4 linked regions of the Homo sapiens genome follow. The protein of the gene in region 4 interacts with the protein of the main gene of each other region in a pairwise test. Each region holds a gene or a part of one and is shown on either strand. Other genes may lie near its edges.

Region 1 (7,026 bases), 3.1 Mb from region 4:
CCTGGCTTGCGGTGGATGCCACTGGGGGCCCCACTCCTTTCTGGGGCAGGCACCTCTCCCCACCTGCTGTGAGGGGGGCTAACAGCTCTCAGAGTGTCTTCCCCAGAGCTGACCCACTGACAAAAGCCCTCTGGGCAGAAATGACTGGGACACTGTGTGTATGTGTGCGTGCATGCAAGTATGTGTGTAGTGTGTATGTGCATGTGCACGTGTGTAGTATGTGTGCGCGCACATGTATGTGTGTAGTGTGTATGCGTGTGCACGCGTATGTGTGCACACGTGTGTAGTATGTGCGTGCGCACGTGTGTAGTGTGTATGCGTGTGCACGTGTGTGGTGTGTGTGTGCAGTGTGTAGTATGTGCGTGTGCACGTGTGTGCACGTGTGTAGTATGTGCGTGCACACGTGTAGTGTGTATGCGTGTGCACATGTAGTATGTGCGTGCACACAGGCATGTGTGTAGCGTGTGCGTGCACACGTGTGTGGTGTGTATGCATGTGCACGTGCATACTATGTGCGTGTGCACAAGTATGTGTGTAGTGTGTATGTGCGTGTGCGTGCTGGGGGTGGGCACAGCCCCAGGCTGGCCGACACAGGGTGTAAAGGCCCAGCCCTGTGCCCAAGAGGAACGGGTCTGCAGCTTGAGCTCTCCTGCACCCACAGCTCTGACCAGCTGCTCCCCGGTCCCTGGCCCTGACAGGCTTCTCCTCTGATCGGGCCCTTCCTTAAGTCTCGTGCCCCTAAATCCTCATCTCATGCTCTGCCTGTGGGGACCTGAGCCCAATTACTGCCCCACGGTCCCCATGCCCGACCCTCTGCCCACTGTGCCCACCTGCAGCACCAGCAGCATCTGCACGATGGCAGGGGGCACACGGGCATGGGCCCGGGCCAGCGCATCCTCTAGCTTCACACTGAGGGTGATGGCATTCCGGAAGTGCAGCAGGGCCAGCTGGCGCACCGATGGCTCCTTGCCCTGTGGACGGAAGGCACCCCACCCCACCGGCTGTGGTCACATGCGTCCTCATCTCCCCTCTCCCGGTCCTGGGACCCCACAGGGGGAAGAGACCTGCCGACCCTCAGGCCCCTCCACCCCGTTCTCCTCAGATGACCCCGTCCCAAGGATAGAGGGCCCCTTCAGTTTCCTCTGGCAGTGAAAGGGTTACTGTCACAGAGCCCCTACGCTGTGCCTCGCTGCTGGGGGATTCACAGGGAGGGAGGCGTCCATATCTGCAGCTTGAAGGGGTGGAAACAGGCTCTGAGCAACTCAGGTAGCCCAAGGAGAGCAGCACAGAGCAGAGCAGGTGTGTGTGTCCCCAAGCCTGGCGGCCCCCCTCTGTAGAGTGAGGCCAGGGTGGGCACAGCAGGGGCACTGGGCTTCCCTCCCCAGGGCTGGGCTGCCCACCTGCACCGGGTAGAAGATGGCCTGCAGCATGGGCAGCACGTCACTGAAGAAGAAGTCCCAGGTCTCTGCCAGTGAGTCCAGCAGCTTCTGTCCTGTGGGCATGGGGGCCATCACCACTGGGCCTGACTGGCGCGGGCAGATGCCTCCACTCACCCAGGATGGGTCATCAGAGGATGCGGGAGTGGAGGGCCTGGGCTCAGGCCCCTGGCAGCACCTGCCCAAGGTCGATGTCCAGCTCCACAGCTCAGCTGTTCTATGGCCCTGGGCCCACTGCTTAACCTCAGTCTTCCATTTATAAAATGTGGCAGTAAAGGGATTGGCCTCCCAGAGCTGAGGGCATGAAATGAGCCTAAGGCACAGGGAACTTGGCTCAGGGTCTGCTCCTGGCAGATGACAGCTGCCAATTCCCAGGCCTTTGTCACATACCAGACCCACACAAGTGAGAGCCACACAGGTATACACCTGGCACAGGTGAGACGTTCACAGGTGAGACCCCTACACGTACGCCTGACACAGGTGAGACCCGCACAGGTAGGTACACTCGGCACAGGTGAGACCTGCATCAGGAGACCTGCACAGGTAAGACCCACACAGGTACACCTGGCACAGGTGAGACCTACACAGGTGAGACCCACGCAGGTATGCCTGGCACAAGTGAGACCCACACAGGTGTGCCTGGCACAGCAGTTTCAACTCACATCCTAGTCTCATCAGATCCTCCTAACAACCCGGCTAAGCAGTTGATTTCTTCTACCCACCGACCTCCTCCCTCCTTCCCCCACACTATCTGCCCCTCCAACAAACACAGAACACCTACTGTGTGCTGGCGCTGATGCTGGGCACTGGGGACCCAGCTGAGCCCCAAACAGCTGCCCATCCATCACATGACAGGGAAGTGGGACACTGAGCAGGATCATAAGGGCAGTAGCCAGGGGTGATCGACCCCCCACCAAGCAGACAGAGGCTGAGCCTCCGAGGAAAGGGTGCACCACAGTCAGTGGCCCAGAGGACCCAGGGCCAGGCCAGCTCTGCCTGTGGTCAGGTCTGGGGATCCACGGAGACCCCTTCCAATAGCAGCACCACGTCGAAGGAAGAAGAGGGTGCAGAGGGTCAGGCAGGGAGGGCTTCCTGGAGGAAGAGCATCCAAGCTGGCTATAGGAGCTGGGCTTGCCAGACGTAGTGGTATGGGGACACATCTTGACAGGTGAGTCTCTGAAACAGATACGTAGGTAGCAGACATCGGGACCAGCTCTGTAGGATTTCTGCTGGCCTTGAGAGGAACGGTGCCATGCACCAGGTGAGTGACCCTTGTGGGACGGGGACAGCTGCCCAAGCTGGCTCTGGGTTCCAGTGGGAGAGGCAACGTGAAGAACCCTTGGCCTTTCTGCCTGGACTGAGCGGAGCTGGGATGAGGGCTGCTGGGTCCAGGGATGCACAGTCCAAGGACGTGTCCCCAAGGCCTCTGCTGTCCCCTGGAAGCCAGACGAACAACTGGCGAGAGAGATCTTGGTGTGGGCGCCTCTGAGTGAAGAGGGAAGCGTTGCCGGCTGTCTCTCAGGCTGCGCCCCCGGCCAGAACTGCTTTGAGGTTTCCATGGGAATGCGGAGGCTGAACAGGGACCTTTGCCTTTTTCTCACTCTCTGGGCCCTGCCCCCACTCCCGGAAGCCCCCAGCTTCATGTAGGTTCGAGGGCACTAGGAGTGGGACCCCGCCAGGGGCAGCCCTGGGGGCTGGGGCCGAGCTGGACTGGGTCCCATCTTTGGCTCCCAGCCCAGTGGCCAGCCCTCTGCCCACCCGGGTAGCCCAAACCTGGCTCTGAGGGTGATGGGGGCCAGCAGGAATGCCCCGGACGGATGGATGCTCACCGCCCCGCCGAACTGTGCCCACACACAAAGTCCCTTCAGTCCCCCTCCGCCGCGGCAGGAAGAAAGGCAGCTCAGTTCCCGGGCTGGCCGGGGGGTGGCTCTGGGCACCGGCCAGGCCTGCGTTCTGCTCAGCGCAGGCTGTTCTCCAGCCCACGGGGCGGAAATGCTGCGGAAAGCAGATGTTGTAAAACAGAATCCAGGCCCCAGCTGGAGCCACACGGTGACGAGAGGCCAGGAAGGGCAGCCTCGCGGCTGTTGGGGCTCTCTGCCGGGGCCTGTCCTGTGGGGGCCCCTCTGTGGGGCAGTAGGGTTAGTCGGAGGCAGGTATGGGGCGACCCCAGGAAGTTCCTCCAGGCGGACTCAGTGGCATCCTCTATGAAAGGGGCGTGATACACGTCCCCACGTGGGCAGGTCGAAAGCTGAGATGAAACAGCACTGGGCGTTTGCTGCCGGCAGGACGGGGCCGGGTGTGTGCGCGCCGTACCTTGGCTCCAGCCTGGCAGTAGCAGGGGCTGATGCAGGCGAGCGGCCCCGCAGTAGCCTTGGCTCCGTGCTGGCTCCCACTCTGGGGTTCTCGCTGTGGGCGCAGGCTGGTGTCCGTCTTTCCTTTCTTTATCCGAGTGCTGAGGGCCCTGTGCAGGCCCTGCAAACCAACAACCCTGTTTCAGCCCGTCGGGAGACTCAGGAACAGTGAGGAGCGCAGGGCAGTGACAAAAGCCACGCGCTGGGTGGACCAGGTCAAGGGTGTCTGGCGCGGGGACGGCCGAGGCACAGGCATGGAGGCAAGCGTGTAAGGCAGCACAGCTGGGTCACGTGACCCATACCGGGTTTGGATTCCCTGGTGGATGAGCGACGGCAGATCCCAGGGCCCAGCAGAGGACCAGGAGCTCCCGCCCAGAGTTCCCAAGTTTCTGGCTTCCAAGGAGTTGCTTGGCTGCAGCTGGAGCCGATTCCCTTAAGCCACACACAGGCCATCAAACTACAACCCCGGCCGCGGTCCAGTCTTCCTCCCCTTCCTAGGGAGGCAGCCCTCCACCTCAAGGCCACTCCTCCAGGCTCTCCGCTTCCAGGACCGGCTCTGCCCAGGGGCTGAAGTCCAAGGCCTCCCTGGAGGCTGAGAAGGGGCAGGGGGCAAGGTCCTGGGGCTTCCCCACAGGGGGCCATCACCCACCTCTGGTAGAGGCTCTGTAGGGACAGCTGCAAGGAGCAGGCTCAAAGTGAAGAGCTCCCAGTGGAACCCAAGCAGGGGTAGGGAGCAGGAAGGGGGAGGCCCCTGAGGCCGCCCATCAGGATGTGGAGGTGGCTATGTCCCCACTGCATGGGGCCAAAAGGGACCACAAGTTCCCCTGAACAGACCACACTTTGAGGCCCTACTCAAGGGCCACTGCCTCCATGCAGCCCTCTCTGACTGCCAAGGTGGAATGAACCCTTTCTTCCCCAGGACACTCCTTCACAATGACATTAATCACACTCAACTGTCACCCTCGGGTCCGTGTCTGTGTCCCCAATTGGGCTGTGAGTCCCTGAAGGGCAGGGCCAGGTTCTCCTCCATCTCTGGGCTCCCAGAGGTCACCTGGGCCTGACATGTAGAGAACACTCAAGTGGACAGAGCCTGTTCAACCCCACATTGCTAAGACAGGGGTGCTGAGGCTGGAGAGGAAACCCTGTGTCTGCAGCTACATGGGAACTGGAGGCCAGGGCCTCAGACTCCCAGCGTAGAGCCCAGTGCCTGTCCCTGAGACCTGGGGAGGCCAGGAAGGGCTGGCGAGGCAGAAGAGGATGCTGGGCCTCCCAGGGCTGTCCTCTGCCCCTTCTGCTGGGCAGGCACCCCTGCTGGGAGGCCTGGCAGACCTGGCTGTCCCACGCAGAGCTCCTTTCAAGCCACACAAAACTCCCTTCTCCGAGAGCCCCGGCTCCCCTAGGCCAGATCTGGTGGGAGGTACAGGCACCGCCAGAATGTGCCGCATCAAGCGAGGGGCGTGGGTGGCCATCTTCGTCAGGTGCCAAATGCTCACAGCTCTGTCCTGCCAGTCTAGATGTTGCCTCCTCCAGGAAGCCTTCCCAGAACCCCCATGTCTCCCCGACGGTCTGATGGTTTTCATGGCCTCTCTTTGTGTTCCTGTCTTGGCTGGCCCCACCCAACATGTTCAGTGGACGTGAGGAAGGACCATGACACGCAGCTCCAAGGTCCCCTGGAACATGCCAGGCCTCCGGGCCTGTGTCCTTCTCTGTGGAGTGGGCTAGTAGCTCTTTTTCCCAGGGTCAGAGGGAGACCTGGAGGAGGAGCCTGGGGCAGCAGAGTGAAGAGTATGGGTTCGGGACCCGGTGGCCTGCTTGGCACCCTGGCCTTGCCACGGTGCAGCTGTGTGGCCTGGGCAGGACACCGTGCCTCACTTTCCCCATTCATTCAGTGCTAACAACGGTGGCTTCTTCACAGGGTTGTGGAAATCAAATGAGTTAGTAGATGTGAAACACTCGGGGCAGTCCAGCACGGAGGGACGCACACACCCGGTGCCTAGTGCACAGGTGCTCAACACACGGGTACAGCGCAGGCCCGATCCCAGCACAGCCCGAGCAAAGCAGCATCCGTGGGAACTGAGTGGACCCCCTCACCTGACCCCGCTCCCAGGGCAGCTCGCTCCTGCAAGGATGCGCACGCTGCTGCTGCTGCCCGAGGCTCTCGGCCACGGGAAGCCCAACCTGCACAGTGAGGCCAGCGGGGACCTCCGGGCCGTGAGAAGGGCAAAGGGTGTGTGCCCTAAAGTCAGGCAGACCTGGGTTTGAGTCCCGCCCCCACCCCTGATGTGCACTGTAGCCTTGGGCAAATCACTTATCATCACTGTACTCTCCCACTCAGGAACAATAACCTGAAGGTCCCAGTGGGTGGCTGTGAGCCTCGACAGAGAAAATTCAGCTGAGTCCCCCACCCTGTCCCCTCCTCTGTGAGTATCGGTGACCTCAGCCCTAACCGACTTCTCCTCTGACCCCCAAAGACCAGGACAGGGGCTCTCCCAGGCTGCGGGGACAGAGCTCACTAGGGCCAGAAAGTCCCGTGGGCAGGGAGGGGAAGCAGGGGGCTTTTCCCCGATGTCTCATAGCCCTCCTGGGCTCCAGCAAGTTCGGGGGGCAGACCCTCTCCCAGGGTTCCCTCTGGGTAAGGATCTCGGCCCTGCTGCCCTAAGGCTATACGTGTTCCTTCCAAGCCCTCCGGACCAGAGAGCCACACCTTGCACCCAGAGGCCCCCAGCACGAGGCCCAGCAGTCCAGCAGCCAGCCAGGACCCAGCATGGCCCAGAGTGGCCGCCAAGGGGCCCACACTCACCCTCATAGAAGCGAATCTTGTCCCGAAGGATCACCATGCCTTTTGTCAGCAGCTGGTTCTGAAGGTAAACACAGAGGGGCTGTCACCGCCCTTGTGGATGCCCGGGGGTGTCCTGGCCAGCAGGGCCCCCGAGAGTCCATCCACCAGTGAGCAGCCAAGGCTTAAAGGGGGAGGAGACTCACTGAGGTCCCACAGTCCACCTGCTGCAGGGCCTGAGCATCAGTTCATCCAGGAGGGTAACTGACCCAACCCCGGGTTGTCACGAGACAGGAGGTGGTCACACGGACATCCCGAGAGGTGGGCAGGGCCTAGAGCTCCTTGCACTGGGCTCAGCTGGGCAGGCAGAAGCCTGGCATGTCCCACAGTGAAGAAAGGACTTTGCATCAAGAGGTGACTCTGATTACCAAAGGCCGGGCCCGTCAGCTGCCATCCTACCTCA
Region 2 (5,437 bases), on a different chromosome or scaffold from region 4:
GCAAAAGGGTCCTCAGCTACCAATAATTACTTTAAATAAAAATGGATTAAACTACCCAATCGAAAGGCAAAGAGTGGCAAATAAATTAAAAACAACAAGATCCAGAGATATGCTGTCTGTAAGAGATCACTTTAAGACACACGTAAGATGAAACTGAAGGGATAGAAAAGATTTTCATGCAAATAGTAAACAAAAGAAATCAGGAGTAGTTATACCCAACAAAATAGAATTTAACTAAAAAACTGTCTCTAGAGACAAATAAGTCATTACATAATAATAAAAGGGCCAACTCAACAGGAAGATAAGACAATGATAAAAATATATGTGCCCAACTTGAGAATATATAAATATACAAAACAAATATTGACAGTTCAGACAATATTGACAGCAATATAATAATAGTAGGAGACTTCAATAACTGACTTAACATAATGAATAGAACATTCAGACAAAAATGAATAAGCAGTTTACCCGAACAACACTGCAGACTAAGTGGACCTTTTCACCCAATAGCAGCAGAACACCCATTCTTCTCAAGGGCACATGCAACATTCTCCAGGATAGATCCCGTCCTAGGTCACAAAATAAGCCTTAACACATTTAAGGAGATTGAAATTATTCCAACTATCTGGTCTGACCACAAAAATTAAACTAGAAGTCATTAACAGTAAGACAACAAAAACATTCAGAAATACATGGAAACTAAACACATTTTGAATAATCATTGAATCAAAGAATCAAAAGGTAATTTGAGAAGGATTTCAAGACAAATGAAAACAAAAACACTACATACCAGCACTTATAGGAATGCAGTACTAGAGGGAAATTTGTAGTGATAAATACATTAAAAGAAGAAAGATCTCAAATAAACAACCTAATTTTACACCTCAAGGAAGTAGGAAAAGAGCATAAAACATAAAACACTGATGAAAGAAATTGAAGAGGACACAAATAAATGGAAAGATATCTTATGTTCATGGAATGGAAAAATAAATATTGTCAAAATATCCAAATTATCCAAATCTACAGATTTCATGTAACTTCTATAAAAATTCCAATGTCACTCTTCACAGAAATAGAAAGAAAATCCTAAAATTCATGTGGAATCACAAAGGACCCTGAATAACTAAAGCCATCTTGACCAAAAAGAACACAGCTGTATGTATCACACTACTGTATTTCAAAATATATTACAAAATGATAGCAATCAAAACAGCATGGTTCTGGCAAAAAAACAGACACATTGACCAATGGAGTAGGATTGAAAGCCCGTGTATAAAACTACACTTCTGTGGTCAATTGATTTTTGACAAAGTGCCAAGAATACACAATGGGGAAAAGATAGTCTCCTCAATAAATGAGGTTGGGAAAACTGGGTATCCACATGCAGAAGAATGAAATTTCATCCTCTTCTTACACTACATGCAAAGTTAAATCAAAATAGATTAAATATTTAAATGCAAGACCTGAAATCATAAAACTCTTAGAAGGACACATAGGAAAAGAGCTTCTTGACACTGGTTTGGGTAATGACTTATAGAAAACTACACCTAAAGCACAGGCAAAAATTCAGCTAAATAAACATAGACAAATGGGATTGCATCAAAATAAAAAGCTGCAAAGCCAAGAAAACAACCAGCAGAATGGAAATTGGGAGAAAATATTTGTAAACAACATATCTAATAGGTGTTAATTTCCAAAATATATAAGGAACTTTGGCTGGGTGCCCTGGCTCACGCCTGTAATCTTGACATTTTGGGAGGCCAAGGCAGAAAGATTGCATGAGCCCAGTAGTTTGAGACTAGCCTGAGCAACATAGTGAGACTCTGTCTGTACAAAAAATAAAAAAAATTAACCGGGTGTGGCAGTGCATGCCTTTAGTCCCAGATACCTGGAAGGCTGAGGTGGGGAAGATTGGATCATCCTTCCTACCTTGAGGCTCCAGTGAGCTGTAATGGTGCCACTGCGCTCCAGCCTGGGTGGCAGAGTGAGACCCCGTCTGAAATAAATAAATACAAATAATAAAAATACAAGGAACTTATTCAACTGTAGTGCAGAAATAAACAAAAAACATAAATAACCTGATTTTAAAATGGGCAAAGGACCTGAATAACATCTCTCAAAAGAAGACAAAAATCGTTCATGAAAATATGTTTAATATCACAAATCACCTGAGAAATGCAAATCAAAACCACAATGAGGTATCATCTTACATGTGTTAGAATGGCTGTTACCAAAAAGATGAAGGATAACAAGTGTTGGCAAAAATACAGAGAAAAGCAGCTCTTTCAGTCTGTTGACAGGAATATAAATTATGGAAAACACTATAAAGATTTCTCAGAAAATTAAAAACAGACCTACCTTATCCAGTAATTCCACTTTTAGGTGTATATGCAAAGGAAATGAAACTAGTATTTTGAAGAGATATCTGCACTCCCATGTTCATTGAAAATTATTCACAATAGCCAAGACATGGAAACAATCTAAAAGCCCATTAACAGATGAATGAACAAAGAAAATGTGGTGTGCATACACAATGGAATATGATTCAGTCTTAGAAAAGGCGATTCTGCCATTTGCAACAACGTAGATGGAACTGGAGGACATTATGCTATGTGAAATGCTCCAGAGACAGAAATACATATATTGTACGATCTCACTTACATGTGGAATCTGAAAAAACAAACCCACAGAAGTAGAGAGTAGATTGGTGGTTGCCAGGGTTCTGGAAGGGGAAATGGGGAGATATTGGTCAAGGGGTATGAAGTTTCAGTTATGCTAAGTGAACATGCTTTGGAAACCTAAGGTATGGTAGTATGAGTATAGTAAACAATACTGCACTGTATACTTGAACTTTCATGAGAGGGTAGATCTTAAGTGTTCTCACTACACATGAAGAAATTGAAAACAGGAATTATGTGAGGTGATAGATATATTTTAAAAGAAAATATTTTTACTTTCAACATGGTCTCATAGGGACTTCTTTTTGATGTTGGTGTTAGACAGGACTCACATATGCCTCGGGTATCTCAGGGTGGCAGACAGACTGTAAAGTGGCCCTGCCTGTCCCTCAACCCTGGTGTTGGGCCTTTGTGTAACCTCCTTCTTTTGAGTGTTGTTGGTGACAGTGACTTGCTTCTAGCCAATAGACTATGGCAAAGGTGATAGGCTGTCACTCCAATGATTGTGTTATGTTATTTAAGACCCCATCTTGTTAGCAGACTCCCTTTAGAGACTGCTGACTTGACGTGAGTGGCCATGCTGAAACAGCTTACCTGGCAGAGACTGTGAGAGGCCTCTAGGACCAGAGAGCAGTCTCCCACCAACACCCAGGAAGAAACAGGGGCTCTCAGTCCTGCTTCGGAAGGCCCCTCAACCACATGATAATGAATTCTCTCACTGGAAATACAAAACCCGTTTACACCATTATCATTTACATCTCAGGATTCATGGAGGATCTAAGTAGAGATCTGGATGGAGAGGTAGACGAAGTGTTTGATTTTGAAGCGATTTGTGGGCAAAGGCAGTAAGGTAAGCATGGATGTGTAACAGGGAAGTACTGAGACAGAATTCTTTGATGTCACTATTTTTCCTGTGTATCTCCTATACTTGTCTCTATATTTAAAGTCTTAAGAATGTTCTGATGGGAAGAGGAGTGTTCATACGGCCTGAGGATGGAACTCAGTCACAGAGACCCAGAAAAATCATAGACATTGATACTAACCATGGCAGCATGCAGGAAAACTGGACAAGGCAAATTAGGGTAATTTGCAGGCCTAGTGGTAACTGACACTAGGATAAATTTGCATCCTGTCTGAGCCAAGAGCACACCTCTCCTCTTTAGCCTGAGCATCCTCCTCTCTAAGTGAGCTCTGGTTCAGATGCAGAGCCTGACCACTCTTTAGCACTCCTAGGAAAGATTAAAAACAGGACTGTGGCTAGGGGCAGGGAGGAGGCCAGGGACCAAGGCACTCAAGTGGGGACTGCAGGAGGGGTCAGAATGCAAGCAGCACTGACGGCCTTCTTCGTGTTGCTCTTTAGCCTGCTGAGTCTTCTGGGGATTGCAGCGAATGGCTTCATTGTGCTGGTGCTGGGCAGGGAGTGGCTGCGATATGGCAGGTTGCTGCCCTTGGATATGATCCTCATTAGCTTGGGTGCCTCCCGCTTCTGCCTGCAGTTGGTTGGGACGGTGCACAACTTCTACTACTCTGCCCAGAAGGTCGAGTACTCTGGGGGTCTCGGCCGACAGTTCTTCCATCTACACTGGCACTTCCTGAACTCAGCCACCTTCTGGTTTTGCAGCTGGCTCAGTGTCCTGTTCTGTGTGAAGATTGCTAACATCACACACTCCACCTTCCTGTGGCTGAAGTGGAGGTTCCCAGGGTGGGTGCCCTGGCTCCTGTTGGGCTCTGTCCTGATCTCCTTCATCATAACCCTGCTGTTTTTTTGGGTGAACTACCCTGTATATCAAGAATTTTTAATTAGAAAATTTTCTGGGAACATGACCTACAAGTGGAATACAAGGATAGAAACATACTATTTCCCATCCCTGAAACTGGTCATCTGGTCAATTCCTTTTTCTGTTTTTCTGGTCTCAATTATGCTGTTAATTAATTCTCTGAGGAGGCATACTCAGAGAATGCAGCACAACGGGCACAGCCTGCAGGACCCCAGCACCCAGGCTCACACCAGAGCTCTGAAGTCCCTCATCTCCTTCCTCATTCTTTATGCTCTGTCCTTTCTGTCCCTGATCATTGATGCCGCAAAATTTATCTCCATGCAGAACGACTTTTACTGGCCATGGCAAATTGCAGTCTACCTGTGCATATCTGTCCATCCCTTCATCCTCATCTTCAGCAACCTCAAGCTTCGAAGCGTGTTCTCGCAGCTCCTGTTGTTGGCAAGGGGCTTCTGGGTGGCCTAGATGGCATGGTTTCCTTATCTAGACCCCCGGAAAAGAAAGGTGAGGATGGCAGAGCTGTGGCCCACTGACATGGAGGTGTTTTCATAGGTAGATGAATACTGGGTACTGTTATGGGGCTCCTCCTCTGGGAAGCGGAGGAGACAAGGAAATCTGGGAACTCTCTGAGCATGCTTCCCTTCTTTGGAATGTTATAAAGATGCAGTCCCATGGATCCCAGAGAGCCAGTATTGCCCAGAAGTTCAGAATATGTTAATATGATGTCGTGCTACTCCTTACGTTTGTACCCCTTTGTTATCTGGAAGGCTTCGATTAAAAGTGTTGATTAACTGTGCCATCGCATCTCCACTGCCTTTCAGAAAGTTAAGAGCAAATATTTGCCTCTATGGCTGAACTGAGATGTGGATAGTGAAGCGACAGCCTTCTTGAGGACAAATGTCATGGTTACTACGAGAGCCCCAAGGGACAGGCAGTTGTGGCAGGCAGTGGCCTGGGCTGTGAGTTCTGATTGCCCTT
Region 3 (7,605 bases), on a different chromosome or scaffold from region 4:
GCGATAGCAGTAGCACTACTAAAAGGAAATGGTGTGACCATCAATTTGGTGCTTAAAAACCATTCTTTTTACTGCAATAAAACCCAACAATAAATGTTAGTTCATGTCTTTTATTAACTCATACAGTTACTTGTCTTCTGGTTTGTTGAAACAGTAAGTCAGACAACATTTGCCACAATAATGTCTGTCAAAGTGACTTGCCATAAACACCCCAGCACCACATTCATCAGAAGGGCACTCTCGACGAAGGCGACTAATTTTGCCATTCTCATCCACCTGAAAAGCACAAACCTGCTGTTAAGATAATTTTACAACACATTCTGAAGTCTAATTTAAGTGACTCAAAATATTTAAGCTTTTAACTGTGTAATACTGGTGGTTTTGGTGCTTACAAACCAAAGCACCCTAAATTCTCACCAGTTATCATTGCTACAATGAAAACATTCAGAAGTCTTGGGACTTTTGAACACTAAAGGCCAGCTTTGCAAGTGGTAGACAAAGGTAAAGACCTGAACCCAAACCCGACTTTAAACTCAGAACCCTATTACATAACTGATTTCAAATACCAAACAGGAAAAACCCCAGAAAGTCTGAATTTCTCATTTCCAGAATACCTCATTTAAACCAAAGTGGGATAATATTGGGTGTTTAAGTCCAAGAAAATATTGACAAGTACTATAAAGATTAAGTTTTCCAAATAAGCCAAGACTTTGCTGACATTCTGCCCTTTAACTGGCTCACCTTATAATATTTCAGGACAGCCAGCTTAACCTTCTTTCTCTTGTGCTTATTCTTCTTGGGAGTGGTGTAAGACTTCTTCTTCCTTTTCTTAGCACCACCACGAAGTCTCAACACAAGATGAAGAGTAGACTCCTGTTAATGGAAGAATGAAGCAAGCTTTCATGATTCCACTAAGAATGGGCACACCCAACATTATGCATTTTCTAATTAAAAGCAGTAGCAGCACACAATAACATTTGAGGGAATCTTGCAGCCCCCAAACCCAATAAAGTATCAGATTCTTAACTGACAGTTTATAGGGACATTAAAGAATGCATTACATTACACCATGGGATACAACTTGCAAAATTCATAATGGGAGAACTATAGCAGTGCTTCTCAAGTATCAGTATAGGAGTTACCTAAAAATCTACTGCTATTCGAATGCCATTTTCCCTTTTTGTGTGTCAAAATGTCCAGAATACACCACATGGAGTGGCTCACGTCTGTAATCCCAGCGCTGGGAGGCCACGGTGGGAAGATCACTTATGCCCAGGAGTTTGAGACCAGCCTGGGCATGGTGGCGGGTGCCTATAGTTCCAACTACAGGAGGCTGAGGTGGGAGGACCACCTGAGTCTGAGAGGTGGAGGTTGCAGTGACTGCGCCACTCACTCCACCCTAGGTGACAGAGTCAGAGCCTGTCTCAAAAAAAGTAAAATAAAAAATTTCCAAAATAACATTTTTTTTTTAAAAGAGGCTGCTCTTCCCCTAGACAGACCTTTTGAATATTGTAGTCAGACAAAGTACGTCCATCTTCCAGCTGCTTGCCAGCAAAGATCAGTCTCTGCTGATCAGGAGGAATTCCTAATGACAAAAAACAAAAATTAAGTCACAGCACACCAAGCCTGTGATGTGCTCCAGACTTATAAGGTAACACCCCTTAATCAAATACATGATACTAAAGGCTGACAATAAGCCCTTACTAGAGGTTAGGCATGGTTCTAAATCTTTACATGTCACATTTTACCGCATTTAATATTAGGGACAATACTTGGTTGTCTGCAGTGGCTGACACCTGTAATACCAATACTTTGGGAGGTCGAGGTGGGCAGATCACTTGATGTGAAAAGTTCAAAACCAGCCTGGCCAACAAGGTAAAACCCAGTCTCTACTAAAAATACAATAAATTAGCCAGGCATGGTGGTGCACGCCTGTAATCCCCACTAATAGGGAGGCTGAAGCACAAAAATCACTTGAACCCGGGAGGCGGAGGCTGCAGTAAGCCGGGACAAGCGAATGCACTCCAGCCTGGGCGACAGAGGAGACTCCATCTCACACAAAATAAATAAATAAGTGTCCAAATTCACGCAAGTGAAATACACCTCAAGGATTCCAATCTAGGTACTGTGCTCCCCGATCACCAATGTCTATTGTGTTATTCCACAAGTATTTCGCTTTGTCAATCTGACCCCTTCCCCCATCACCAAGAGCAGGTATGTCTAGCACCTACAGGTAGGCCGAAGTCTCCGCAGGTTAAGTTTTCTTAACTACAAAATACTACTTGCCTTCCTTATCCTGGATCTTGGCCTTTACATTTTCTATCGTATCCGAGGGTTCAACCTATGAGTGTTAAAGTGAAAGCATGTTGGTTACACATTAAGGAACTACAGCAGAACTCATTTAGTTTGACAATTACCACTGAACCGAACCAGCGACAGGGCTGAGACCTACTCGAGAGACCTATTACCCACCCAGTGGGCAACCTCCCAAGTCGGCTACCGGAAAGCACCTTCATCTCCCCAGCCCAGAGCGGGCGGCGGCCGCAGGGCCACACGTGCTCGCACCCGGCGGGCAGAGCGTCTCCTTCCCCACCGCAGCTCCTCCGTTTTAACTAACTAGCTGGAACCCCTCGAGAGGAGACAGGTCCAGCCTTTGGCCACCGAAAATCACCTCTAGGTCGTTGCTCAGCAAAAGGTACTCATTTCAAAGCTTAAGTTTTAGAACCCAAATTCGGAATCATGGTCTAAGACATGGAAAGCAGCGCCGGTCCTAAAATCCACCTCAGGACCTTATTCGGACCTTGGCTTCCTCATGACCACCCGGCCCGTACCTCGAGGGTGATGGTCTTCCCCGTAAGGGTTTTCACGAAAATCTGCATTTTGGTGGCGGCTCCACCTGAGGTTGAGGAAAAGGAAGAGACAGGTTAGGTCAGGGATCACAAGAGAAGGCACCATAGGGTGCTAACCCGAGAGCAGCCGAAGTGCAGACACCCACCGCAGATGGCGGATCGAAAAGGAAGAACGCCGCGCAGGCCCACGGGGTTTCCCGGAGCTCCCGCCGAAGGACCCACCCCTTAGGCGACCACACCAAATGCCTGACTGCCGTCCCAGCGACAATCCAACCCGGTGCCAGACTAGGACGTGAACTTCGTTTCTCCTCTCCCTAGCCTGGGCTTATTTCTCACTTTAGCCTTCGGAATGCTTTCGAAACTGTAGGTTTAAGCAACGTAAAAGATGTTTTAAAAAGGCTTTTCCCGTACAATCAACGTGGCTAAGAGAATTTTTAAAAGGAGGTCGAGGGGGGCCTCTTGGGGAAGAGGTAGGAAATGGAAGTGCATTCTGGGAACTGTAGTTCTCCACTGCTTTCTTCTACCTTGGACTACTTGTCCCAAGATGCAGTTCCACCTCCCAGATTCCCTAGTTACTATCTCTAAGCACTGAAGTCGGTGTTTGGAGAAAAGGACTCAGGTGAGGACTGGAGGTAGGATGAAGCGGAATAATGGTTTCCGGAGCGTGGGAACGGGCCGGAAGTGACTAGAGCAAATGTTAAGCGGGGGGCAAAGGGTGCGGGGCACGAAAGGTGTCCTTCACTCACTTCCAGAAGCGGTGATGGGCAGAGAATCAGCAATCTACCAGACGCTCCTTGGGCCTTCAAGGGAAGGGAATTTGCGTGGCCTGCTCCAGGCAAACTGAAAAATAGGTGAAATCTGCGGAAGCGGGGGTTCAGCCCTTTCTCTCCTGTAGCGCCTCCCTGCTTTCAACCGCCGAGTCTCTCCCAGCCTAGGGAAGAGTCTGGGTCTTGTGTGTCACTCCTTAGTGTGACACGCTTTAATATGTTGAAAAATCTCAGGAGTTTTCAAATTTTAAAGTGAAGCCGTACGGAAAAGAAACCTGCAGAATGGTTATTTAGTTGTAGAATTTCCAAATTTGGGCATTGGGAGTCTTGGATCTGAGAGGAAGTTTTTGGAGTATGTATGGGGTGCTTCTTCCGGCAAGGAGGCCAATTAGAAGCAAGTTCTCCCTGTCCTTTCTCCACTCCACAAACCAGAGTCCTTTCTAATGTCTTCTGTATTTATTTCTTCATCCTCTGCCCTCTGCGACCCCATCCCCAAATTCAGACCTTAATTTTCTCTTGTAGGGGTTCCGAATCTAACTCCTTATCTCTCTCCAGTCTTTCCTCCTTTCTAACCCACCTTCACTATTGCCTCCAAAATATTCATTCTGAAAGGTAAATGTGTGTTATTATTTTATACCTCACCTTCAGGATACAATTCAAATTTCTTAGAATGACATTCAGCCTCTGCCTTCCTTACAACCTAATCTGCTAAACCCATTACTCTACATTTTAGTAAATGAAGCTAATTTAATTTCCTGACCTATGCCCTCCCGTGTTTTGGCATTTCTGAAGAATCCAGTCGTTTATTCTTCCTGGAACTTTTTTTTTTTTTTTTCGTGAGACGGAATTTCGCTCTGTTGCCCAGGCTGGAGTGCAGTGGCGCGGTCTCGGCTCACTGTAAACTCCGCCTCCCAGGTTCAAGCAATTCTTCTGCCTCAGCCTCCCGAGTAGCTGGGATTACAGGCGCCCACCACCACACCCGGCTAATTTTTGTATTTTTAGTAGAGATGGGGTTTCACCATGTTGGCCAGGCTGTTCTCTAGCTCCTGACCTCAAATGATCCATCCTCCTTGGCCTCCCAAAGTGGTGAGATTACAGGCGTGAGCCACCACGCCCTGCCTCCTGGAACATTTTTCATCCCCTAGTCCGCCAACTAGTCTCTACAACAAAATTTCCTAGAGTTGCTTGTACATATTGTCTCTAATCTTTCCCTTCCGTTGTCTGAACCCACTCCTGTCAGGCTTTTGTCCCCACCATTCTGATCGGATAGCTCTTGTAATGGTCACTAATGACCTCCATGTTGCTAAATTCAATGGTCATTTCATCTTATTTGATCTGTCAGCAGTATTTGACACAGTTGCTCATTCCATCTCTCTTTGAAAACCTTTCAAAGACTTCACCTCTCAGTTTTTCTGCCACCCTGGAGGCTCTTTTCCAGGCTCATTTGCTGCTTCCTCTTGATCTGCAAGACCTCTAACCATGGAGTATCCCCAAGGCCCAGTCCTTGGACCTCTGCTTTGTCTGCATTTTCTTGGTTATCTCATTTTTGTTTAATAACTTTTAAAGTATCATCATATGCAAATGACTCATAAACTTATCTGTCAGACCAGATATGTCACAGATATGTCACAACTTCATCTTCACATATCCAGCTATCTACTCAACATCTCTAATGGACAGGCCCCAAACACTTAATCTCATGAAATTGCTCTTCCCATGTTTATATATGGCAATTCCCATTTCTCCAGTCACTAAGGCCAAAAACTTTATGATTATCCTTGACTGTTCTTTTATATCCCACATCTTATCTACCTTGGCAGATCTTGGCTTTATTTTCAAAATATATGCAGAACACTTCCTACCACCTCCATTGTTAGCACCCTGATTCAAGCCACCATCATCTTTTGCCTTGATTATTGCAGTAGCTTCGTAACAGCACTTCCAGCTTTGACCCTTGCGTCCTATAATCTGTTTTCCACAGAGCAACAAGAACAATTCTTTTTTTTCTTTTTTTTGAGATGGAGTTTCGCTGTTGTTGCCCAGGCTGGAGTGCAATGGCACAATCTTGGCTCACCGCAAACTCTGCTTCCCGGGTTAGGTGATTCTCCTGCCTCAGCCTCTCCAGTAGCTGGGATTACAGGCATGCGCCACCACGCCCAGCTAATTTTGTATTTTTAGCAGAGACAGGGTTTTTCCATGTTGGTCAGGCTGGTCTGGAACTCCCGACGTCAGGTGATCTGCCCGCCTTGGCCTCCCAGAGTGCTGGGATTACAGGCATGAGCCACCATGCCTGGCCAAGAACAATTCTTTAAAATGTTAAGTCAGCTCTCCCACTCTTCTGCACACAGGCCTCTAAAGGCTTCGAATCTCACTCAGAGGAAAGCCTAAATTCTTACAAGTGAGGCTGTTGCTCCAGTGCTGGAACAAGTAGAGGCCACAGTCCAGTGTTGCTCCTCTTGCCAAGTCTGCCCAGAGAAAGGGACCTCTTTTTCTAAACCGCACAAAGGTACCCCCTAGGCTGATAGTAGTTCTGCCCTCAAGACCCTACATGCTACATAATCTGGCAGTTACCTCTCTGATCTCATCTCTTCTCTCCCTTTCTCATTCTCTTCTAGCCCCACGGGCCCTCTAGCTGTTCCTCAAATGTGTTGTCCCACCCTGAGGCCTTTGGACTGGCTACTCTCTTTGCCTCAACCACTCATCTCCCAGGAATCTACATGACCTGCTATTTTCAGATTTCTGAAATGTCACCTTATCAGTAAGCTCTTTTGTCTTTCCTGACTTACTGCCCTTATAGAAAATGGTATCCTCCCACCTTCCTTACTCTCTATCCCCCATACCTTGTTTTATTTTTCTTCATACAACTTAACCCCTATCTGTCATACTATATTTCTATATATATATAATTTTTTTCTTTCTTTTTTTTTTTTTTTTTTTGAGACAGAATCTCCCTCTGTCGCCCAGGCTGGATTGCAGTGGTATGATCTTAGCCCACTGCAACCTCCACCTCTCTGGTCCAAATGATTCTCATACCTCAGCCACCTAAGTAGCTGGGATTATAGGTGTGAGCCCCTGCGCCCAGCTAATTTTTATATTCTTTAATAGAGACTGGGTTTTGCCATGTTGGCCAGACTGATCTCAAACTCCTAACCTCAAGTGATCCACCTGCCTCGGCTTTCCAAAGTGCTGGGATTACAGGCATGAGCCGCTGTGCCTGGACTATTTTTTTTCTTGTGTGTTGTCTGTTTCTACATGAATGTAACCTTTGTGAGATTAGGGACTTTGTTTTGTTCAATACTGTGTCTCCATTGTCTAGAATAATGGCAGACAAACAATAGGTGTCCCCCAAATATTGAATAAATAAATGTAGCACAACTTAAGCATTGCCCTAGATTTTGTTTTACTAGATGTTTTCCCTAATGTTTCCTTGCCCCCTTCCGTAGGCTGATGAGATGCCCCTCTGGCCTTCTGTAGCCTATTGTGCTTACCTCTGTCACACTGCCTTTTCTGCTTTGTAGCAGTGGCTCATTTACTAGACCTGGAACACTTGACTGGGAACCCTTGTGACTTGTCAACACATCCCTAAATGTCTAATATGAATGAATGAATGAATGAATGGTAATCTTGGTTGGTTTATGTAACTCAATGGCATTTTGTAGATGTTAAGGAACAATCCCTTTAGCTGTGTTCTGGTTTGAGAGCACCACAAGTCCAATGTCTTATGAATAGACTAGATTATTGTTCAGTGATTATTGATTATTCAGCAAACATATGTTTGAGTACTGCTCTGCTAGAAACTGCATTATGCACTTGAATGCATATGGTAGAGGAGGGATGATGGGGAAAGAGAACATTTTGTTTCCTGATCTTGTCACGCTTACAGCCTAACAGATGAGACAGAATATAAACAGGAAGTCTCTAAGGCAGTGTGGTGGAAGGATAATACCATGATGGAGGAAGTGCACAGTATTATGGGAGAACATAGCAGT
Region 4 (8,020 bases):
TCATCCTAAATTCCCACTTTCAAAGTCACTACCCTTGATACCCTTATTTAAAATAGGTCTCTTCACTGGGTGCAGTGGCTCATGCCTGTAATCCTAGCACTTTGGGAGGCTGAGGCGGGCGGATCACTTGAGGTCAGGAGTTCAAGACCAGCCTGGCAAACATGGTGAAACCCTGTCTCTACTAAAAATATAAAAATCAGCCAGGTGTGGTGGCATGCGCCTGTAATCCCAGCTACTCTGGAGGCTGAGGCAGGAGAATCACTTGAACCTGGGAGGCAGAGGTTGCAGTGAGCTGAGATCACCCCACTGCACTCCAGCCTGGGCAACAGAGCAAGACTCGTCTAAAAAAAAAAAAAAGGTCTCTCTTGTTATTTTCTATCACAGCACCCAGTGTGCTTCCTGTGCAGAAGGCACTTATGCAATTTGTAACTAATTATTTATGTATTTATTTTTAATGTCTCCCCCATTAGATAGCTCCATGATGGCAAAGAACATCTTTGTTCATTATATCAACCTCATTTACCTTAACACGTTGACTAGCATAGAGCAGACGCTCAATAAACATCTGCTGAATGAATGAAATAATGACTCCTAAGGCTCCTTTCAGCTGCCCAATAATTATTAGGTAATAGGATAAAAAATACCCAGTGTAAAGGGGGAGGTTTTACGTGGGGTATAGGAAATATCTGATTCCTCACTATGATAAAAAAACAAACAACTAAATGGCTCCATTCCAAGAAGTTTAGTTAAAACTTGACTGATGTGGGCTGGGCATGGTGGCTGACGCCTGTAATCCCAGCACGTTGGGAGGCCAAGGCAGGCGGATCACAAGGTGAGGAGATCGAGACCATCCTGGCTAACACAGTGAAACCCCGTCTATACTAAAAATACAAAAAATTAGCCGGCTGTGGTGGCGGGCGCCTGTAGTCCCAGCTACTCGGGAGGCTGAGGCAGGAGAATGGCGTGAACCCGGGAGGCGGAGCTTGCAGTGAGCCTAGATCGTGCCACTGCACTCCAGCATGGGTGACAGAGCGAGACTCCGTCTCAAAAAAAAAAACCAACAAAAAAAAAACACTTGACTGATGTAATCTATTAATGAGTAACAGCTTCCTCAGTGACTTTGTAAGTTTTGCTTTCAGATGTGCCTCAATCATTTTAACAACTGGTTATCTAGGCCCAAATCCCTGTCAAATAATGGGTTGGCTACATAAGAATTAGCTGATAAGCTCATTAAAAATACAGATTTTTGGACCAAAACTCCAGGAGATTCTGATTTAGTATTTGTGAAGCCTTAGAATCCATATAATTAAAATTTTCTCATTTTAAATAGATATTATGTGTATGTAATACACAGGTCCAGAGGTAAGAAACAGTTTACAGCAAAGTTTCTCTTCTACCCCTGTTCCCCTGGCATCAAGTTCCCCTTTCCATAAGCTACTGCTGTTATCAATTTCTTGTGTATCCTTACGGATAATTATTTGCCTAAGCAAGCACATATATATCCTTTGATTTGCATATTTAAAGAGCTATTCTAACCTTGTTTTTTCTAATCTCATTTACAATATATGTTGGAAATGAGGGTATCTGCATTTTTAACAAGCACCCTAGATGATTTTGATGTGAAGCCAAATATAGAAACAACTCATGGACCCACGGTTGTGAGATTAAGTTCAATTCACTACGACATATTAGAAACTCAAGGACATTGAAGGATGCCCTCAAAAGTAGCCTCCCTTACTTGATCTCTGCCCCCTCGTCTCACAGAGATGAACTAAATCATTCGCCAGTGTCTCCACAGAAGCCAGGAAAAACTAGCCATTCAAATGGATGCTGTCAAAGCTTCAATTTTCAATAATTGGAATTCTTTCCTGCTCATTGTTACCCGAAATTACAAACCTGACAATTCCTGTGTTACACAAGACATTCCTGTATTTAAGTTGAAATAAGGTGTGATCGTCACTGAATGAGGGCTGGTTTTTCTCCTGCCAGTTAAGTAGTTTAATGGAGCACAACCGAAATACTTTCTTTACTAATCCTTATTCACACAGCCTCATCCAAACTTCCCCCAAAACTGCTTTCTTGCCATTTGAGCAAAAGCAATTAACTTAGAAACTGTGGGGAGAAGACTGCTTGGTGAATTCTGGAGTTCGGGGCTCCTCTTATCCTGACTTGACCTACCTGGGGGCGATGGCTGGGTCCCTAGGCAGCTCTATCTCCCCCATCCCACCTATCCCTGGGACTGCAAAGGGAGCTTCCTTTTGGCACTGAGACAAGGTTCTCCGAGAGCCACCCGACCTCCGCAGTGTCTCTGTCACCACGAGGGGCACCGCGCGGCAGGCATCCTCACCTTTCCTACACCGCGCCAAGGAGGCAGGAGTGCACTGGGCTACCCGAGCGAGGCAGAGAACCCGCCGGGATCCAGCGCTGGTTTACCCCACACCCTCGTCGAAGGGGCTCTCGAGGGCTCGGTTTCTGCCCAAGCCCCCTGCAAGGTGGAGGCATGACTCCTCCATCCCTTCCCCTTGAATTCAAACGTGAGGATGGTATCTGCGAGGCTAAAGCGGGGCTCAGATGGCCCAAACTTCAGACCACTCTCTTCTCCACTCGGCTTTTCTTCCATCCTCCTGGCCATGTGTCTCCCCGTGAGTCGTGGCCCAAGTCTCCCCACCTCGGCCAGCCGCCACCCTCTGGCCTGGCTCCCGCCCTCCTGCCCACCTGGCCCCTTCCCCCTCACCCAGCATGATGGGGCTGAGCCGCCGGGCCAGGCCTTTGGACAGGTCGTACACGTAGAGCTTCACCGGATAGAGATTCGGCGGCTCCATTGGGACCCGTGGCGACGGCGGCCACGACGGCCCTCGGGCACCCGGCAGCGGCTTGGACCTTCCCGTACCCGACGGGAGTGCGAAGCGGAGGGAGAGGGGGGGACCGAGCCCGGGCCCGGGCTGAGGGGTGGGGGAGAGGCCGCCCTGCGCTGCTCGCGCCCCCACACCCGCTACCGGCAACGACTACTGTGAGGTGACAGAGAGGGGACAGGGAGGGCCCACACGGAAGAGGGGGCGGGGGCAGGGATGCACTTTTGCGCATGTGCTTACAGTCCTGACGTAGGAAGGGGCGGGGCTTTGCCGAAGGGGGCGGGGCTCTCGCTGATGGGTTGGCTTTCGTCAGGGACATAGGTAGAAGCTGGTTGGGGAGTGTGCGTGCCAGCCTGACGCGATATAGTGCGCACATGCGTGATGACGTAGAGGGCGTTGATTGGGACCGAGTACAGGGCCCGCGCATGCGTGGATTGTCGTCTTCTGTCCAAGTTGGTCGCTTCCCTGCGCCAAAGGTAAGCGGGCCGTTATCCATTTGTGTTGTTCGCCAGCTAGGCCTGGCCTCGTCCCGCTTCGCTCGGTCGGTCTCGCGCGCCCCCATAGCCTTGCTAGAGGGTTAGCGTTAGCCTTAAGTGTGCGAATCCGAGGAGCAGCGACAGACTCGAGACCACGCTCCTTCCTCGGGAAGGAGGCGGCACCTCGCGTTTGAGGCCCGCCTGCGTTTGAGGCCCGCCTGCGCTTGCGGCCCGCCTGCGCTTGAGGCCTGTCTGCGTTTGAGATCTCATTGGGCGTGATTGAGGAATTTGGGGAGGTTTTTGGGCGGTATTGAGGACGAGGGGGTCCGTTAGTCAGCATAGAATCCTGGAGCGGGAATCCCTCACCGTCTAAATGGCGTCGGGGGCGGGACCTCCGGGATCTGGCTTCCGCGGGCCGCCGCCGGCCCTGAAACGTGAGGGATAGCTGAGATGAGGCAGCTACTGGGATGGCCCCCATGCGCATTTACATGCAGTCCGACTGCCGAGCTTTCGAGGCAGCAGGATTTACCGTCCACATTCCTCACTACTAACCAAGCTTTTAGAACAGATCTCACAAGAACCTAGAGGTCGGTATTTTTTCGATTTAAATTTGCCTGTTACTGACGTTAACGTCTTTCGCCTAGTGAGCAGTAGCCAACATGTCAGGGTGGGAGTCATATTACAAAACCGAGGGCGATGAAGAAGCAGAGGAAGAACAAGAAGAGAACCTTGAAGCAAGTGGTAAGTGACTTCAGCATGTAGTGCCATTCGGTGTGTGGAAGAAAGACCTTCCCTGCCTATCTCTGCTGGATGGACTTTGCTGTTTGATGGCCTGCCCTTCTCCTCCCAGATAATTCTGAAATTCTTTTCTTCCTTTGAACTTCGCAGAGCTACCCTAGGCTCTTATATGCAGATCTTACTCTAGTGTGCCCTAAGTTTTTTTTGGACACTGGTAGTTTGACATCTTTTGGTCCCTGATAAATGGCCATGACCATAGGTATTTTTTGTCATCTTAAGTGGTTCAGGTGAGACCCTTCTCATCCAGGAAAGTAGTGTTACCATTCCAGGACCTCAGTGTAAAAATGCCCCCACCCTGCAATAACTACACCAACCAAAGAATAAACGCAAGCAACACAGTTACAGGAAAGTGATTGATTCCCTCACTATAGCCTCCACGTTTGGGAGTGTATGTGCAGGCAACACAGTAACACATAAAACAAAGGAAGAGAAATAGGGGTACATGTAATCTTCATACTGGTTAATTTAACTCCTGAGCAGAAAAATTTTGAATATTTTTATTAAAAATGAGAAACGGCCAGGCGCGGTGTCTCAAGCCTGTAATCCCAGCACTTTGGGAGGCCGAGGCGGGCGGATCACGATGTCAGGAGATCAAGACCATCCTGGTTAACACGGTGAAACCCCGTCTGTACTAAAAAAAAAATACAAAAAATTAGCCGGGCGTGGTGGCGGTCGCCTGTAGTCCCAGCTGCTCGGGAGGCTGAGGCAGGAGAATGGTGCGAACCTGGGAGGTGGAGCTTGCAGTGAGCCGAGATGGCGCCACTGCATTCCAGCCTGGGTGACAGAATGAGACTCTCTCAGGAAAAAAAAAAAAGTGAGAAACATAGGAAATACAAAAAAGAAAAAAATTTGCTATAATCTACCACTCTAACACAACCACTACCAGCATTTTGACATTTTTGTATTTTTCTTTCAAGTATCTTTCAATATTTATTTCCTAATGAAATATATATATTTTTTAATTTTTTAATAGAGACAGGCTGGAGTGCAGTGGTGAGATCATCGTAGCTCACTGTAACCTCAAACTCCCGGGCTCAAGTGATCCTCCTGCTTCAGCTACCTCAGTAGCTGGGACTACAAGTGCCGCCAACTCCCAATAATTTCTTAATTTTTTGTAGAGACAGGATCTTGCTATGTTGATCAGGCTGGTCTCAAACTCTTGGCCTCAAGCGATACCCCCAAGCCTTGGCCTCCCAAAGTTCTAGGTTTATAGTCATGAGCCTCCATGCCCAGACTGTATCTGATTTCTTTTTCTTTTTTTTTGGAGACAGTCTTGCTCTGTCGCCCAGGCTGGAGTGCAGTGGCGCGATCTTGGCTCACTGCAAGCTCCGCCTCCCGGGTTCATGCCATTCTCCTGCCTCAGCCTCCCGAGTAGCTGGGACCATAGGCGCCCACCACCACGCCCGGCCAGTTTTTTGTATTTTTAGTAGAGACGGGGTTTCACTGTGTTAGCCAGGATGGTCTTGATCTCCTGACCTTGTGATCCGCCCTACTCAGCATCCCAAAGTGCTGGGATTACAAGTGTGAGCCACTGCGCCTGGCCTATCTGATTTCTTGTATTGTAACGATAGTGCATATACATTTATTTATTTATTGAGACAGAGTCTTGCTCTGTCGCCCAGGCTGGAGTGCACTGACTCAATCTCGGTTCACTGCAACCTCCGCCACCCCAGTTCAGGCTATTCTCCCATCTCAGCCTCCCAAGCAGCTGGGATGACAGGCGTGTGCGCCACCACACTCGGCTAATTTTTGTATTTTTAGTAGAGGCAGTGTTTCACCATGTTGGCCAGGCTGGTCTTGAACTCCTGGCCTTAGGTGATTCACCCACCTCGGCCTCCCAAAGTGCTGGAATTACAGGTGTGAGCCACTGTGCGTGGCCTATAGCTCATTTTAAATATACCATAATTTGGCCGGGTGTGGTGGCTCACACTTGTAATCTCAATAAATATACTGTAATTTGTCTGGGTGTGGTGGCTCACGCCTGTAATCCCAACACTTTGGGAGGCTGAGGCGGGCAGATCACTTGAGGTCAGGAGTTCGAGACCACCCTGGCCAACATGGCAAAACCCCATCTCTACTAAAAAATACAAAAGTTAGCTGAGTCTGTGGTGGCATGCACTTGTAGTCTCAGCTGCTTGGGAGGCTGAGGCACGAGAATTGCTTGAACCGGGGAGGCAGAGGCTACAGTGAGCTGAGATTGCAACACTGCACTCCAGTCTGGGCAACAGAGTGAAACTCTATCTCAAAAAAAATAAAATAGGGGCCGGGCGCGGTGGCTCACCTCTATAATCCCAGTACTTTGGGAGGCCGAGGCAGGTGGATCACAAGGTCGGGAGATAGAGACCATCCTGACTAACATGGTGAAACCCCGTCTCTACTAAAAAAATACAAAAAATTAGCCAGGCGTGGTGGCAGGCGCCTGTAGTCCCAGCTACTCTGGAGGCTGAGGCAGGAGAATGGCGTGAACCCGGGAGGCAGAGCTTGCAGTGAGCTGAGATTGCATCACTGCACTCCAGCCTGGGCGACAGAGTGAGACTCTGTCTCAAAAAAATAATAATAAAATAAAAAATAAGGCCGGGCGCGGTGGCTCACACCTGTAATCCCAGCACTTTGAGAGGCCGAGGCGGGTGGCTCACGAGGTCAGGACATCGAGACCATCCTGGCAAACACGGTGAAACCCTGTGTCTACTAAAAATACAAAAAAATAGCCAGGCGTGGTGGCAGGCGCTTGTAGTCCCAGCTACTCGGGAGGCTGAGGCAGGAGAATGGCGTGAACCCGGGAGGCGGAGCTTGTAGTGAGCCGAGATTGCGCCACTGCTCTCCAGCCTGGGCGACAGAGCGAGACTCCGTCTCAAAAATAAAATAAAATAAAATAAAATAGGTCAGGCACGGTGGCTCATGCCTGTAATCCCAGCATTTTTGGAGGCCAAGGTGGGCAGATCACCTGAGGTCAGGAGTTCAAGACCAGCCTGGCCAACATGGTGAGATCCTGTCTCTACTAAAAATACAAAATAAGCCAGGCGTGGTAGCGCATGCCTGTAATCCTGCTACTCAGGAGGCTGAGGCGGGAGAATCGCTTGAACACGGGAGGTGGAGGTTGCGGTGAGCCAAGATCGCGTCATCGCATGTTTAAGGTTCTTGACACACATTGCCATTTTGTTCTCCAGGAGACAGCTAATTAAACTTATTAAGAAGCAGCAGGCCATGCACAGTGGCTCACGGCTGTAATCTCAGCACTTTGGGAGTAGGAGGCTGAGGCAGGCTATCACCTGAGGTCGGGAGTTTGAGACCAGCCTGACCAACATGATGAAACCCCATGTCTACTAAATACAGAAAATTTGCTGGGCATAGTGGCACATGCCCGTAATCCCAGCTACTTGGAGATGACCAGACATTATATACCTTTTTAGGAAAAAATATGTTACTTATGATAAAGTCATGCTGAAGAAAGAAAACCTGAATCAGATTAAGCCTCTCTAGGTCCTTAGTAGGAAGGACAGAGGACTCTGTTAATCTACACCAAAAGAGGTCAATCGGCAGGCCAGGCAAGGTGGCTCATGCCTGTAATCCCAATACTTTGGGAGGCCACGGCAGAGGATCGCTCAAGCCCAGAAGTTCAAGGCTGCAGTGAGCTATGATTGCGCCACTGCATTCCAGCCTGTGTGAGAGAACAAGACTGTTTCTAAAATAATTAATTCAATAATTTTATTTTTTTATTTGAGATGGAATCTCTGTCGCCAGGCTGGAGTGCAGTGACTAATCTCGGCTCGCTGCAATCTCTGCCTCCCAAGTTCAAGTGATTCTCCTGCCTCAGCCTCCCTAGTAGCTGGAATTATAGGCATGCGCCACCACACACAGCTAATTTTTTGTATTTTTAGTAGAGATGGCGTTTCA

The links.
Region 1: the proteins of DESI1 (region 4) and PRR5 interact in binary tests that used the Homo sapiens proteins (3 or more experiments, as listed by UniProt).
Region 2: the proteins of DESI1 (region 4) and TAS2R41 interact in binary tests that used the Homo sapiens proteins (3 or more experiments, as listed by UniProt).
Region 3: the proteins of DESI1 (region 4) and RPS27A interact in binary tests that used the Homo sapiens proteins (3 or more experiments, as listed by UniProt).

The regions. Positions count from the first base shown.
Region 1 is NC_000022.11:44,726,196-44,733,221, reverse strand, and holds part of PRR5 (proline-rich protein 5), read right to left. Parts: intron 6,646-7,026; coding exon 6,588-6,645; intron 1,493-6,587; coding exon 1,401-1,492; intron 972-1,400; coding exon 831-971; intron 1-830. Other genes in the region: PRR5-ARHGAP8 fusion protein, read right to left, coding at 6,588-6,645. UniProt on the Homo sapiens protein: Associated subunit of mTORC2, which regulates cell growth and survival in response to hormonal signals. mTORC2 is activated by growth factors, but, in contrast to mTORC1, seems to be nutrient-insensitive. mTORC2 seems to function upstream of Rho GTPases to regulate the actin cytoskeleton, probably by activating one or more Rho-type guanine nucleotide exchange factors.
Region 2 is NC_000007.14:143,473,873-143,479,309, forward strand, and holds TAS2R41 (taste receptor type 2 member 41), read left to right. Parts: upstream 1-4,000; coding exon 4,001-4,924; downstream 4,925-5,437.
Region 3 is NC_000002.12:55,228,099-55,235,703, reverse strand, and holds the start of RPS27A (ubiquitin-ribosomal protein eS31 fusion protein precursor), read right to left. Parts: upstream 3,017-7,605; 5' UTR 2,996-3,016; exon of another isoform or gene 2,897-2,995; 5' UTR 2,880-2,896; coding exon 2,832-2,879; intron 2,342-2,831; coding exon 2,287-2,341; intron 1,586-2,286; coding exon 1,500-1,585; intron 874-1,499; coding exon 742-873; intron 277-741; coding exon 127-276; 3' UTR 1-126.
Region 4 is NC_000022.11:41,618,018-41,626,037, forward strand, and holds the start of DESI1 (desumoylating isopeptidase 1), read right to left. Parts: upstream 3,027-8,020; 5' UTR 2,823-3,026; coding exon 2,735-2,822; intron 1-2,734. Other genes in the region: XRCC6 (X-ray repair cross-complementing protein 6), read left to right, coding at 3,988-4,069. UniProt on the Homo sapiens protein: Protease which deconjugates SUMO1, SUMO2 and SUMO3 from some substrate proteins. Has isopeptidase but not SUMO-processing activity. Desumoylates ZBTB46. Collaborates with UBQLN4 in the export of ubiquitinated proteins from the nucleus to the cytoplasm.